Linked DNA regions of Homo sapiens: all the other regions are reported to be linked to region 1. Evidence: microRNA targets listed by miRTarBase, many of them from high-throughput screens and not tested one by one. Region 1 holds a microRNA gene; each other region holds the end of a gene's coding sequence.

Region 1 (5,176 bases):
AATAAAAAATAGAAAATTCAGGCCGGGCGCAGTGGCTCACGCTTGTAATCCCAGCACTTTGGGAGGCTGAGGCGGGCAGATCACGAGGTCAGGAGATGGAGGCCATCCTGGCCAACAGGGTGAAACCCCGTCTCTACTAAAAATACAAAAATTAGCTGGGCGTGGTGGCAGGCGCCTATAGTCCCAGCTACTCAGGAGGCTGAGGCAGGAGAATATCTTGAATCCGGGAGGCAGATGTTGCAGTGGGCCCAGATCACACCACTGTACTCCAGCCTGGCGACACAGCGAGACTCAGTCTCAAAAAAAAAAAAAAAAAAGAAAATTCAAACAAAAAAGCAGGAAATGCCACCCTCTCTGTGCTGTGGTGGCAGCAGGCGCTCTGGTGCCTCTTCCCTTTCTCCTGGGACCGAGGCGCAGAGCTGGCACATCCCTGCCTGTGTGCCCCACCCTGTGGGCACCTGCCCTGCCCACCACCGTGCCTCCAGCCACTTGTGGGTGTGGACACTGAGGCTGGGGCTCGCTGGGGTTCAGCCCTGCGCCCCCTCCACGAACTGGGTCCACAGATGGGGTGGGGTTACCGGCGGCCATGGGTGGTGGGAGCCCAGCTGAGGTGACCTGTCCTGAGAGTGGCCCCAACAGACTTCCGCTGCCCATCAGGGTTTGGCCCTGCCGGGCTCCTACCGGGGAGGCCCAGGCTTCTGGCTCCACTCCCTGCAGACCACACGGCCCCTGCCCCGGCCCACCCAAGGCTCTTGCGGACCTGCAGGTCCCCTCAGGAATAACCCAGTGGAACATGGTGCACAGCCAGCCGGAGGCCCAGAGCCCTCCCAGCCCGCGGGGGCCTCGCCCCGATTTCACAGAGATGGACACACAGCCTTAGTCTTAGTCACAGGCTCAGGTGTCTGTGGCAGATCCCAGTGTGAGTAAGTGGTGGGCAGGAATTCATGCCCAGGCCATGTGGCTTTAGAGCCGGGAGCCCTGACCCCTCCACTGTGTGTGGGAGCCACCGCGGCCACGGTCATCTTGGGGCCCTGACCCCACCTCTGTGAGTGGGAGCCGCTACAGCCACGATCATCTCGGGGTCCTGGCGTCCCCCACTGTGAGCAGGAGCCACCGCAGCCATGGTCATCTTGGGGTCTTGGCCCCTCCACTATGCGTGGGAGCCACTGTGGGCATGGTCGTCTCGGGGTCCTGGCATCCCCCACTGTGAGCAGGAGCCACCGCAGCCATGGTCATCTTGGGGTCTTGGCCCCCCCACTATGCGTGGGAGCCACTGTGGGCACGGTCATCTCGGGGTCCTGAACTGTGAGCGGGAGCCGCCACGGACACAGTCATCTCAGAGCCTAGATGCTATAGCCCAAGCCAGACCCTGCGGCCGCTGGCCTTCGCGAGGGTGGAGGTCACACATGGCTGCAGCCCTGGAGGGTCAGCTGGTTGGGAGCTCAGGGAGTCCGGCTCTTGTCTGAATTCTCAGTGCCCATCGCGGTCAGGGCGGAGTAAGTGGAGAGGAAAAGTCTGGTCTATCTATCATGGCTGCAGGGGAGCTGGGCTTTCCTCCTCCCGGCCCCCTCGCTCCTTCAGAAGGCAGCCTCTGGGCAGCCCAGTATGTAGTTGGCAAGGGCACACGGGGAAGGGAATGCCTGTCGCGGAGGCTGGACCCCACCGGGTGAGGTACTGGCATCTGAGCTGGGCCCTGGGTCAGTGCGTCACGCTGCGTCTCCCGCCCCTTCCTGGACGACCTCATCCCCTGCTCGGAGCTCCCACTGTGCGCTCGGCGAGGATGTGTTTCCCTATGCCACATCCTCACCTGTCACTCAGCGTCACCACCCGGCCCTCCACACCGTGCCACATCCTCACCTGTCACTCAGCGTCACCACCCGGCCCTCCACACCGTGCCACATCCTCACGTGTCACTCAGCGTCACCACCCGGCCCTCCACACCGTGCCACATCCTCACCTGTCACTCAGCGTCACCACCCGGCCCTCCACACCGTGCCACATCCTCACCTGTCACTCAGCGTCACCACCCGGCCCTCCACACCGTGCCACATCCTCACCTGTCACTCAGCGTCACCACCCGGCCCTCCACACCGTGCCACATCCTCACCTGTCACTCAGCGTCACCACCCGGCCCTCCACACCGTGCCACATCCTCACCTGTCACTGAGTGTCACCACCCGGCCCTCCACACCACCAGTCCCCCAACAACAGCCTCCCCAGTGGTTCTGCCACAGAGCACGTCAGACCCCTGTGTTCACTCTCCCTCGTTAGGCTGGGGTTCCATGAGGTCACCTGGGGTCCCTGGACCATGCCCAGCACACAGCAGGCACTCAGTACAGGTTTGGAGAGTACAGGGGACACCCGTGGGCATCCAGAGGCTGCCCGCCCCAACCCGTCCAGCAGCCCTGTCCCCAGGACAGGTGGGGTGGCCCTGACAGCAAGGACCCCGCAGGAGTGAGTCACAGCCCCAGCACAGGGACAAGGACCGTGGCTCTCCACAGGCGATGCTCCTACACGGGAGGGGCCTTTGCCCAGGACAATGCTGGCTCTGGAGGCCCTGGCTTTTTCTCCGTTTCCTTTTTCCTTCTGCTTGCTTTGCCTCTGGGGACACAGCCAGGCACAGGGAGCAGATCCAGAAATCAGCTGGGGAGTATTTATGGAGCACCTACTGTATGCCCCAAGCTGTCCTGGGAGAGGACAGAGCTGCCTGCATGTGTGGAGACCCCTCTGCAGACTGGGAGGGCTGCGTGGGGAGATCCTCTGGGCTGGGCACGCACCTCTGACCCTCACCACGTGAGAGGCACTGCACCCCACGTTAGGGGGTGGGGCCCTGGCCAAGGTGATGTCTGGTTCTGGTCGGACGGCCCCTCCCTACTTCCTCTCCTTAGATCTCAGCCCAGACTCTTTCTCTCCTCGCCCCGCCACTATTTTCCACTTACACATTTTTGACAAACACCCACACCTGTGGCTGATTTTCAGGTGCCGTGGGAGCTGACAGGGCCTCCAGCCAGGTCTCAGGCCGGCGGAGCCTGCCTCATCCTGGTCTTGCCAGCAAGACCCACTGTGCAGTGTGGGTGGATGCAGAACACAGGTGCATGCCCCCTAAGGTGTCCTAAGCCCCCTGTAGACATGGTCTCCTGGCACATGAATTTCTGACAATGGGAAATCTGGAAGACCCCAGGTTTCCAGGCTATGCCACAGCCACAGACAGGAGGACCCCCAGAGAACCTGCCACCTCAGCCTCATGGTGTGGAAGGGGAAACTGAGGCCCAGGCCGGCAAGGGGCTTGCTGAAGAGCCCAGAAACCATCCTGGGAGGCAGACCTACTAGACCGCCTTCCGGTTTTACAGATGGGGAGGCTGAGGGTGGGCAAAGGGGTTGGGACTGTCATTCATTAAGATGGTGCCACGTCCCTGGCCCGGCCGGCACTTCAGAAGCTTGGCAGAATGAGGTTCCGGATGGAAGTCAGCGCGGGGAGAGGGTGGAGCGGTGGGGGGCAGCCTGCAGGAGGGTCTGGAGTGGGCCCAGACATGGGGGTGGGAGGCTGGCTGGCCCCAGGGCCGTCCCTGCCGGGTTGTGAAACTCGCTGTTCCCATCTGGGAGTGGCTGCTGGCTGCACTCCTCTCGGGAACTCCTGGGTCCTGGTCCCCAACTGAGGCCACGTGGGTCTGGGCTCTGACGGTTGGCAGGTCATCCAGAGGCCAGCCTGTCCATCCGCCTGTGCCCAGACAGCGAGGCCCCTAAAAGGCGGGCCCTTCCAGAGCCGGTGGTGGTGGTGGCAGAGGTCTCCCGTCCTGGGGCAGGGTCCAGGATGGGAACTACTCCCCCAGGTCAAGGGCAGCCCCTGGAGGAGGCCCTGCCCCCACACAGCAGCTCAGCCAATCCCTGGGCCTCACCCCTGCTCATTTGCATACCCCATTTCCATTGGCTGCCAACAGGCTGGTTAGGACAGTGGTGCCCTGGCCATGGGGGTGGGGCTCTGGGGGGCGGGGCCCTGGGGGTATCAGATTCTGGGTGACTGGTCCCAGCCCCAAGTCTAGGGTCAGAAAGCTGCATGGGGCTGGTGGGGGGCTTCAGTTACAGTGCAGGCTCTCCCCTTTCCTCGAAGGCTCCCTGACATCCATTCAGGGATGACTCTGAGTGGGAAAGATACTGGTCCAAGGTCGTACAGCCAAGAGGCCGGCACAGCTGGGACCTGGCCCCAAGTCCCAACCCCTCTCCAAGGCCGGCCTCTTTTCTCCTGTGGGGGCCTGTTGAGAGCGACTTCTTATTTTTGGCTGCCTTGTTTCAGGGAGGGCTATTTGGGGGCTTTCTTTGCAAAATGATGATGATGATGACTTTCAGAGCACCCCGAGTGCTCAGCTCTCCCTCTAGATCTGGTGGCTCTGTGCGCCGCAGGCAGTGGGCTCGCGGGTGCGTCGGGACGGTGGGCTCGCGGGTGCTTGAGGGGCGGTGGGCTCGCGGGTGCTTGAGGGGCGGTGGGCTCGCGGGTGCGTCAGGGCCTGTGGGCTCGCGGGTGGGTCAGGGGCAGTGGGCTCGCGGGTGCGTGAGGGGCGGTGGGCTCGCAGGTGCGTCAGCGGCCGGTGGGCTCGCGGGTGGGTCGGGGCGGTGGGCTCGCGGGGGCGTGAGGGGCGGTGGGCTCGCGGGTGTGTGAGGGGCGGTGGGGGGCTCGCGGGTGTGCGGGTTGAGAGTGTGTTCTCACTTTTGTTCCTGGCATTAGGGTGGGGTGAGATAAGGGGAAGGGGGGCCGCTCAGCTCGAGCAAGCAGATAGATAACGGCGATAGCACCTCCTCCACCGCACAGCACGCATCGCCCTTTTTTATCAAGTTCTCTTTTCTTCTTTTTCGTTGTAGGGTGGTAGAGTAGAAAACACCCCACCCCCACCTCCCAAAGCCATGGAACTAGGGGGTGGGGGCCTCCCCATCTCAGGTCCCAGCCACAAAGGGCACGGGTCAGCTTAGGGCCCGCTGTGCCCAACACGCCCAGCAGCCAGCCCAGAGCCCGTGACTGGAGGAGGGAGGGGATCCAAGGCAGCTGCGAGGCCCGGGGTCCGGAGGTCCCAGCATGACAGGAGCAGCTGCGCATGTGCCCTGCAAGGCAGGTCTCGCGGTCTACACCATCAGCTCCTTGAAAGGACTCTGAGAGGGCGACTGGCACCCCATTTTATAGGAAAAG
Region 2 (5,000 bases), not on the chromosome of region 1:
TTGAAAATATTAATAATTCACCAGTGTCTGATTATATAGACCTTAGAGTTGGTTCCCATGAATTGCCTGAATCTAAGGCGGGAAAAGATCAGGTATTTCTTCAAACTCTCAGGCAGAACTCCCCAGTCTCCTGAGAGAAGAGGAAAAGAGAAGGAAAATGAGGAAAGGGAGGGAAATGGGTGGTGGTGGCGATGGGAGCTGGCTATGCCTGTGCCTCCCTGCCAGAGTTCCTCCATTCCTGGCCACGCTGGCTCCCACCCTGACCTGAAGCCTGGCAGTAAGCCCTCAGTGCTTGGGAACTGTCATCGTCCTTTTCTTCTCCCTCTCTCTCTATTACTATTCTTATTTGTGTTACACACAAGACTGGGAGATGTGTATTGGTTAGGGGCCTTGAGCCGCAGCGCGTTCCCGGTTTGGGCAACTGCATCTGCTAAAGATTCCCTTGGTGTGAGTTTCTTCCCCATGCCTTTCATCACTGTTTCTAGACACCACTGATCTCTATTTTTGTGATTCCTACGACTTTTCGCCAGAGAGGCTTCTTCCAAATATGACCTTAATAAAGATTTCCCAAAGATCGTTTTCCTGCTGTAAACAGCCTGATCCAGAGGATCAACCTGAGGAAGCGGCGGGACTCGCTCATCCTAGGGGGTGTTATTGGGATCTGTACCATCCTGTTGCTGCTGTATGCGTTCCATTGATGGGACATCTTCAGGGACTCTTGACAGCCACCGCTTTCACACCCTGGTCTGGAATAAGGAAACATCGGAGGGAGAAGTTGACTGTCTTGATAATTAGCCTGACCAGCAGGATGAATGCAAGACTGACAGTGATGGACTCTGTGACATGGTCAGGTTGAGCTGAAGCCACAGTTTCTCTGTGCTGTGTTTTCTAACACATTTTTCTGTTTTTAATTAAAAAAAAAAAAAAAAGGTTTTCAGTTGCTTTTGTCTCCCTAGGAGGCAGGTAAACCAATCAAAAACAGAGTTTTCTGTGTTTCCATGATAGTGTTGAAGCCTAATGACAAGCCAGGTCTTACAGCTGGGCTCTTCAGAAAACCAGGTTTCTACATCCAAAGACTGCTTTTCTTTTAGCTGCCAGATTGGATTGTGAATAAAAATAATTCTTCCCTCTCCCTCTCCCTCTCCCCACGGTCTCCCTCTTTCCACGGTCTCCCTCTGATGCCGAGCCGAAGCTGGACTGTACTGCTGCCATCTCGGCTCACTGCAACCTCCCTGCCTGATTCTCCTGCCTCAGCCTGCCGAGTGCCTGCAATTGCAGGCGAGCGCCGCCACGCCTGACTGCCTCGGCCTCCCGAGGTGCCGGGATTGCAGACGGAGTCTCGTTCACTCAGTGCTCAATGGTGCCCAGGCTGGAGTGCAGTGGCGTGATCTCGGCTCACTACAACCTCCACCTCCCAGCCACCTGCCTTGGCCTCCCAAAGTGCCGAGATTGCAGCCTCTGCCCGGCCGCCACCCCGTCTGGAAAGTGAGGAGCGCCTCTGCCCGGCCGCCATCCCATCTAGGAAGTGAGGAGCGCCTCTTCCCAGCCGCCATCCCATCTAGGAAGTGAGGAGCGTCTCTGCCCGGCCGCCCATCGTCTGAGATGTGGGGAGCGCCTCTGCCCCGCCGCCCCGTCTGGGATGTGAGGAGCTCCTCTGCCCGGCCGCGACCCCGTCTGGGAGGTGAGGAGCGTCTCTGTCTGGCCACCCCGTCTGAGAAGTGAGGAGACCTCCGCCCGGCAGCCGCCCTGTCTGAGAAGTGAGGAGCCCCTCCGCCCGGCAGCCACCCCATCTGGGAAGTGAGGAGCGTCTACGCCCGGGCAGCTGCCCCGTCCGGGAGGGAGGTGGGGGGGTCAGCCCCCCGCCCGGCCAGCCGCCCCGTCCGGGAGGGAGGTGGGGGGGATCAGCCCCCCGCCCGGCCAGCCGCCCCGTCCGGGAGGGAGGTGGGGGGCGCCTCTGCCCGGCCGCCCCTGCCCGGCCGCCCCTACTGGGAAGTGAGGAGCCCCTCTGCCTGGCCACCACCCCATCTGGGAGGTGTGCCCAGCAGCTCATTGAGAACGGGCCATGATGACAATGGCGGTTTTGTGGAATAGAAAAGGCGGAAAGGTGGGGAAAAGATTGAGAAATTGGATGGTTGCCGTGTCTGTGTAGAAAGAAGTAGACATGGGAGACTTTTCATTTTGTTCTGTACTAAGAAAAATTCTTCTGCCTTGGGATCCTGTTGATCTATGACCTTACCCCCAACCTGGTGCTCTCTGAAACATGTGCTGTGTCCACTCAGGGTTAAATGGATTAAGGGTGGTGCAAGATGTGCTTTGTTAAACAGATGCTTGAAGGCAGCATGCTCCTTAAGAGTCATCACCACTCCCTAATCTCAAGTACCCAGGGACACAAACACTGCGGAAGGCGGCAGGGTCCTCTGCCTAGGAAAACCAGAGACCTTTGTTCACTTGTTGATCTGCTGACCTTCCCTCCACTATTGTCCTATGACCCTGCCAAATCCCCCTCTGCGAGAAACACCCAAGAATGATCAATTAAAAAAAAAATAATATAATAATAATTCTTGTCCTCTTATTTTACACTCATAATGAGAAATCACAAGTTCTTTCTTGATGATCTGTGCTATAGATTTCTACTCTGTCTCCTCAACTCTGTTGATATTTGGGGAAAATTCTGTTTTTCATAGATTCTTTGAGATGCTGATGGACCAGCTTCAGCATGTTTGAGGTTGTCTGAAATGGAGATCACTGTAAAACTGTCTTTTTCTTTTAAATTACAAGTACACTGGGGTTAACTGTATTGCTGGAAAAACATCAAGAATGACAGTCTTATATTTAAGGCACCAGTCATTGTTTCCATTTTTTTTTTAATTCTTCCCTTGGATTAATATTTTCTACTGAAAAGAAATGAAATCTCAGTTCCACTATGATAAAAGAAACGAATCACCAGTGTCTGTCAGTGCCCCCACTGCTCCTCCTCATACCAGCATTGACACTGGTAGCTGAGGAAGGGGACTGCTCAATTTCTAATGTGATCTATTCAAGAAGCCACATATAAAAAGGCATTGAGGGCTCACTGTCCAGAGAATTGCTTTTGTAAATGCTCCACAACGTATGGGCAAAAGTTTAAGGACTACTGCCTGATGTACCAGGAATCCTGAGTTCTGTGAAAATCTGTTCATTCCAAATCTGTTAAGCATTTCCAAACATCCAGAGAATGGTTTCACTGTTGAGGGTGCATGTGGCAGAATCTGTCTCTCTCTGCACCTGTCTTCTGTTACCATCCCTGGACAGTGACAGATTTTAAGCCAGCCACCAGAATTCTTTTCGAGTTAACCATTTCTTAGTTTCTGTAAATTCATGACTTGTCTTACTGAACTACAGCCTGGTTTGTAGACTTCCAACATCTACACTGCTGCTCTTCACCATTGGAATTCACTGTGGTATTTATAGTATTGGCTTCAGTCCGAGCCACAGGCAATAAAAGGATATCAGCTGTAGTTCTCAGCTACATCATGGTGTATAGATGCTGTTATTCAGGCGAACTTGCTCATGGGTGGACTAACACCTGGTTTGGTACAGAGACTGAGAAGTTTTTCATTCTGGTGTCAAAGTTTTGTTACATTATGGGTGTGAAGGGCATTTGATATATTTTTCTTAACTATGGGGTTTATTTTTCTAAATGTGGGTTGATTGACTGTTAATTGATTCAGGGTACCCTTAAAAGAAAAGAAGTTTTCCCATTGTGAACCTTAAATGATCAGAGAAGTAAGTTCATTGATTAAATTCTCTGTTGGGAGAACAAAACTTTTCTCCCTTGACACTTTATTATCTTTGATTTTTCAAAGGGCCTTGATTGGTGGTTGTGTCTCGGTTAAAATTTATGGGACTTTGCTATGTAGTTGGCATTTATAAAATCTGAAGTATCATAAATAAAGTTATTTATTTAATTATACTACCAGTCTTTTTTACTGGTCTGATTCTTTTGTGCATTCATTAAAGCTGATTGTGTGAGAGTGAACTGGGACACAAGCTAGTCTAGCTCACTGCAGCCAAGCAAACCCTGTTGATGGCTGATGGGCCTTTCCATTAGGGTTTTGCTTATGTGAAGTAATGGAATTATGTTGGTTATTTTCTTTATGAAAATAAACCAGTTCTTCCAAGGAAGTTAAAAGGCTTGGTATGGATGTTGGTGTCAGATAGGTCTGACTAACCTCTCCGTGCTGCAGCCTATACTAAGGTGACCCAGGGCCACATGTAGACAGCTAGGCCAGTGCTTTTTCCTCTTAGGGTTTCTTTGCAGAAAGAAACCTCCAGCAAGGGAAGAGAGGTGTGTGTCCACAGGAAGGGGCTCCGTGGGGATCCCATGAAGGGATTTGAGCTCTTTCAGCTCCATGTCATTTAACTTTTTTGTTTAACCACCTTGGCTTTCTCTCCTTTTTTGCTGTCCTCCTTACGGACCAGTTACCAGATTCAGAGGCTAACAGTTAGTTACTTGTTAATGCTAGTCACAGCCAGGAGGTCAGAAGGAATTTTCTACTTCTGGATCCAAATGTTACCTCTTAGGGGAAGTTATGCCCCCTCAACTATTGTCTTATTATAATGAATCTTTCCTTTTTGGTCCTTTTAAGTAACCACTCAAAACTTTTCATTTCACTGAAAAAATATGAAAAACCATGACAATAGGGCTGGGTGCAGTGGCTCACGCCTGTAATCTTAGCACTTTGGGAGACCAAGGCAGGCGGATCGTTTGAGGCCAGGAGTTTGAGACCAGCCTGGGCAATGTAGCAAGACTCTGTCTCTGCAAAAAAAATTAAAAGATACCTGAGAGCTCACTTTAATATCAAGGTATTTGCATCCATTCCCACCCTGTTAGCTCTTAAGGGAGGAGGGAAATCAATTCCAACCATACTTTCCTGTGATGGAAGATGTTTCCTCTTGAAAAAATGCCAATACAGATTTTTAAAACCTATTGTTTTCCAAATGCACTTTGTAAGTTTTTG
Region 3 (5,000 bases), not on the chromosome of region 1:
GCTGATAATCTGGCCACTGCTATTGCTATAATAAACTGTCCTTTGTCTCTGACCTATGAGTCTCATAACTTCTGCCAGGATCCATGAACCCATGTGGTGTGCTCACTTTATTAGCCTGCAAGTAGGGTAAAATCTCATACCCTTCACAGGTTTGCTACCTATGTGGTACTTTTAAGAATCCAGAGCTGTAAAAGAAGACAAAGTCCAGGTAGCAAAAAACAGTTTGCTGACTCCACACACAGAAAAGACCCAGGAAATATAATGTTCAAGGAGCACTTTAATAGTCAACAAATTGATGCAGTTTTGTCACAATACTTTGCATAATTTTATAGTAACAGTAAAATTCTGAATCACTTTATAGTAAAAGAAAAGACACAGAGGAAAATAATTTCCCTGTACAATGAAATTTTCATACACTATATGAAGATTTCCCACATCTGTCAAGTTTTGGCTCAGAATAAAAGATAGCTAATATATTTCACTCTTTTTTCTGTTACTTTTTTTTTTTTTTTTGAGACAGTGTTTCGCTCTGTTGCCCAGGTCGGAGTGCAATGGCACCATCTCGGCTCACTGCAACCTCTGCCTCCCAGGTTCAAGCGATTCTCCTGCCTCAACCTCTCAGGTAGCTGGGATTACAGGCGTGCGCCACCAAACCCAGCTAATTTTGTATTTTTAGTAGAGACAGTGTTTCACCATGTTGGTCAGGCTGGTCTCTAACTCCTGACCTTAAGTGATCCACCCGCCTCAGCCTCTCAAAGTGCTGGGATTACAGGCGTGAGCCACGGCGCCTGGGATTACAGGCATGAGCCACTGTGCCTGGCCTTTTCTATTACCTTTAAAAGTTACTTCACATAGTAAAGAAATTAGGACTGATTCTTGGCATAAAGGAGGGTACAAAAAAAAATTGTGCCAGGTACAGTGGCTAATGGCCATAATCCCAACACTTTGGGAGGCGGAAGTGGGCAGATCACTTGAGCCCAGGAGTTCCAGACCATCCTGGGCAACATGGTGAAACTCGTCTCTATTAAAAATACAAAAATTAGCCAGGCGTAGCCAGTCATACACGCCTGTGGTCCCGGCTACTCGGGAGGCTGAGGTGGGAGGATCACTTGAGCCCAGTAGGTGGAGGCTGCAGTGAGCTGAGATCGCGCCACTGCACTCCAGCCTGGGCAACAGAGTGAGGCCCTGTCTCAAAAAAAAAAAGAAAAGAAAAGAAAATTTGGTTTCCTGGCAGATAGAGTTTTAACAAGCGCATCAAGCAGTAATAATTTGTGGTCTTGTGCTCAATTCTCACACATGATCTTTGCAAGCGTCCCAGCAGCCATCACAGCTCTACTTTCACATGCATGGGACACAGCACAGAGCAGCAGCCTTGAAAGGACTGCAAAGAGGTGTGAATTCCAAACATTCTCTTAAGTCCTAACATTTCTGTTCTTCATTTTGTGTGACAGAAGCCCATGGAAACAAGGCGATGACGGCGCTTGAGGGTGACCAGACCTCCTCAATCATTCCATCAGCCACCCAGGACTCAACAGCAGAACCTCAGAGGACTCAGCTGAAAGAGGTTTTCACTCGAGCACTAACCACAGAGAAATGGGAAGTGCCATCCTGCTGTCATACGCAGCCGATGGCTGGGTAGGACTAAATGCCCTTCTGTGGTGAGATGAACCAAGACGGCAGATGGGGGAATAACATCAGTGAGAGAGAGATTACGAATGGATCCTTGTATTGCAGATCAAACTGGGTTGTCTCTTCTCAAACCACCCAGGCAGTTTCTGAATGTCCCAAGATAGGGGTAGGAGAAAAGAAAAAAAAGACAAAACAGGAGACGGTGGGTAAGAAAACCTAAAAGGCACAATGAGGCAAAGGCCTAAGATGGAGGCTGGCTTTGGGATCTGAAATCCGGCCACAATCCTCCTTGTTTTACCTCAAGTCCAAGAATTGTCAAAAAGAAAACCCAGAAGGGCTATTCATTCTAAATTTTAAAATCTTTTCTTCCTGGCCTACCAAGTCCTTGTGTTTTCTTTCTAGGCGCCCATAAATACAACCCCATTACAGTTCTATTTGGCTAATAATTTACAGAACATTTAAAATACCGGGTAGGTGAACATCTCTTCATGGCTTTTGTGTAAGGGCCTGAAGCGAAGAGAAAAACAACTGATTGGAGATTCCTATCTGGCGCCTTCTCCAGGGAAACTGACAACCAGAGAAATCTGTTGCTAGGATTTCTAGGACATCTGGAAATTCCCTTTTTGTTCTTTCTCAACAATATAAAATGGTATATTCGCAAACCTATCTGAATCACCTCAATCTAGGCCACTTTGAAAATTTCATTTAAAAATGTAATCACAGATTTTTAAACTAATTACCCAATTTGCAAACAAATCCCAGCTACTTCTGGTCTTGAACATGGAGCAAAGGTGTGTCAGTAAGGCCAACATTCTTAGGTTGACAGAGACAGGTTAACACATTGGCTGGCTTCATTTACCCCCCTGCCACGCCCCACACTGAGCTGGATGATTTGATGGGAAGAGAGGGTCCCCACCTCAGGGTTCACTTCCCCAGCCCCAGCGTTCATGGGTTTTCAGGAGGCTCAGCCTGTGAAAAAGAACCAATGATGATGCACACCCTGGCTGAAGTGACATCTGGCCAAAGGATTCCAACAGAATGAATTCCATCAACATGGAAAAGATAATCCATGGCACCAATTCTGTGCTGCTTACAGGCAATGGTTACCAAATGAGTCAAAACATGGCCTAGAAGTGGAGCCGGGCCCAATGAAAAGCCTGAGTTCACACGTGCTAGGGGCTCCACTGACCGGCCTCTGCAGCCCAGCACCCAGTCCTCTTGCTCTGGGTGCAAGGTGAGGAGGCAGAGTGCACACACCGGCTCCTGTGTCCCCGGCCTGGCTGGCAATGGTAAAATGGGCTGCCTTTCTTTTGCAGCTTCTTCTAATCGAAATACCAAAGGGTACTGACCTCTGGCCTCAGGGATGTGACTTGCAGTGCAAATTTTACCTCTTCAGTGCAGAGAGTGGTCTTGAAATCTTGCCAGTGTGTGGCCCTCCCTCAGCTCCTGCCACCCTGGGGAGCCAGGATGCTGAAATGCATAAGGCAAAAGCACTGAATCGGATCTATTCCCCACTGACCTTTAGTTACGATCACTCTGCCCTGACCAGCTGGAGTTGGGCCTGTGTGAAGCCAGTGATTTCCAACACACTGAAGAAGGTATCTGAGTCCAGTGTGAAAGCCAAATTCCTCCTGAATCTGTGATTTGGTGAAGCTCTGTGAGGTATTTTTTGTGTGTGGAAGACTGAAAGTGAAGGGAAACAACTAAAAAAATTAAACAGACAAAAGCAGTGTACCTTATCCTGGTTTCTTCAAACATAATGCCTGTGCCAAGAATTGGGCAGGAGAGAAACCAACGAAATGAATATAATAACTTATCCTGAGGCGCTCCCTCCCACGCTGGCTTAGAGATCTCGCACACACAAAAACTCTCCTTGTTTATAAGAAGCTGTCTCTCAGTATGCGGGCAGCTCTTCCCAAAAGCCCGTCATTAAATAAGCTAAAAACAGGTGCAAGCGATGTACCTGCATGGGTTCCTGAGACTTGCCTTGCAGAAGCGGCCTTCCAAGTCACCAACTCTTGAGAACTCCAGAGAAAAACAGCGCAAACACGTGGGCAAAAAAAAAAATCCTGGTGCCTGCACCAAGTTCTTCTCCCAAAGTATGTTTTACTCACATAGGGCAAATTTCTGTCGCGGACTCAGCTGCCTTTAGGAGAGTAAGGATTTGAAGGGGTACAGAGAATGCTGTCAGTGTCTAAGGAGGAAACCCTGCCTCACCTATTTCAAATCTTGACTCTGGTTTTCTAAGCAAATTTATCTTAGGATACAAAGCACACATTAGAGCTTCCTTCTTGCCTTAATGCAATTAAATTTGCAGCCATTCTGCAGAAGAACTGAAGCTCTCAGGTGAAAAGAAGCCTTAAATCATGCCATGATATATGTCGGGGGAGGGAACATTTGGGTATAGGTATTTTCCTGAAGGAAGAGAAAGGGTTGAATGTATTGGCAGCTGAGCTGTCCCTTCAAGGGGATATTGTGAAACAAGCTCAATAAAAACCTCTCCCTCTGAAGCATGAAATGTTCCCAGAGGGGACAGGAGGATTCCTTTGGTGCTATGATGCAACCTCAGGTCATGTGCTCGCACATGCTGGAGCATTTTCCTGAGTAACCTGAGGAAAATGTGGCAACAGAGAAAAGCACTTGGAAAATACACGCAGGAGGCAGGTAGTGTTCACCTCCCTGGTTAAAGGAAAGGCACCCCCCACATGCTCACAGGAACTCTCCCTCCTGCCCCTCCTCTTCCCCTACCCCACTTCCACCCCAGGGGCCACCGGAAGCAGCAGCAGCAACCCCGGCTCCTCATCCCCTGCCGTGATGTCTGCAAGTGGCTCTGGCTAGAAGTGGTGCTGGTGAAGGGCTGTAGATGAGGGTCTCTTCTCCAGCCTCTTCACGTGGCAGGAGTGACAGAACAGGTGGTCCTCCAGCGGATAACAGCGGTGGCCATCTTCATCATTGAGCTCCAGACCACAGTCCTGTGGGGAGGCAGACATGTCCAGGGGAAGCAAAACAAAACAGACTGCAAGACTGACCTGAAGGCCACAGTCCCCAAAATCAGCAGAGGGTGCTGTGTGTTTCTGTATAGGCAGGAAATGCCAGTGCAGAAACACAGCTCCTGCCCCGTGGAGGCCTGTCCAACACAGGAGACACTGCCACAAGGCACTTGCTGTGAACCACTTAAAATGTGCTGTCAGTGTAAATGCAGATTCCGAAGACTTAGGACAAAAAGAGGATGTAAAAATATCTCATGGGAAAAAGGAATGAGATCATGTCCTTTGCAGGGACATGGATGAAGCTGGAAGCCATCATTCTCAGCAAACTAACAAAGGAACAGAAAACTAAACACCACATGTTCTCACTCATAAGTGGGAGTT

Evidence for each region. Region 1 holds the annotated microRNA hsa-miR-5189-5p (UCUGGGCACAGGCGGAUGGACAGG, at 3,706-3,729, opposite strand). A microRNA usually pairs through its seed, bases 2 to 8, with sites in the 3' UTR of a target mRNA and lowers its output. Matches are read on the target gene's strand: a 7mer-m8 pairs with bases 2 to 8, a 7mer-A1 pairs with bases 2 to 7 and ends in A, and an 8mer does both.
Region 2: miRTarBase lists GOSR1 as a target of hsa-miR-5189-5p. Seed matches in the 3' UTR shown: 7mer-m8 at 1,362-1,368 and 7mer-m8 at 2,036-2,042.
Region 3: the mRNA of LIMD1 is a reported target of hsa-miR-5189-5p. Seed matches in the 3' UTR shown: 7mer-m8 at 1,166-1,172 and 7mer-m8 at 997-1,003.

The regions. Positions count from the first base shown.
Region 1 is chr16:88,467,496-88,472,671 of GRCh38, reverse strand. It overlaps MIR5189 (microRNA 5189), which reads right to left and starts at 3,754; the gene lies at 3,641-3,754. All of the region lies in intron 1 of ZFPM1 (zinc finger protein, FOG family member 1), which reads right to left.
Region 2 is chr17:30,521,681-30,526,680 of GRCh38, forward strand. It overlaps GOSR1 (golgi SNAP receptor complex member 1), which reads left to right. Exons shown (of 9, transcript NM_001007025.2): 9 at 574-5,000. The coding sequence ends at 698. Among named protein-coding and RNA genes, the nearest start is that of GOSR1, 47 kb to the left of the region's middle.
Region 3 is chr3:45,676,523-45,681,522 of GRCh38, reverse strand. It overlaps LIMD1 (LIM domain containing 1), which reads right to left. Exons shown (of 8, transcript NM_014240.3): 8 at 1-4,601. The coding sequence ends at 4,464. LIMD1-AS1 (LIMD1 antisense RNA 1) reads left to right here. Exons shown (of 3, transcript NR_033947.1): 2 at 1,452-2,477; 3 at 2,592-3,358. Among named protein-coding and RNA genes, the nearest start is that of LIMD1-AS1, 9.9 kb to the left of the region's middle.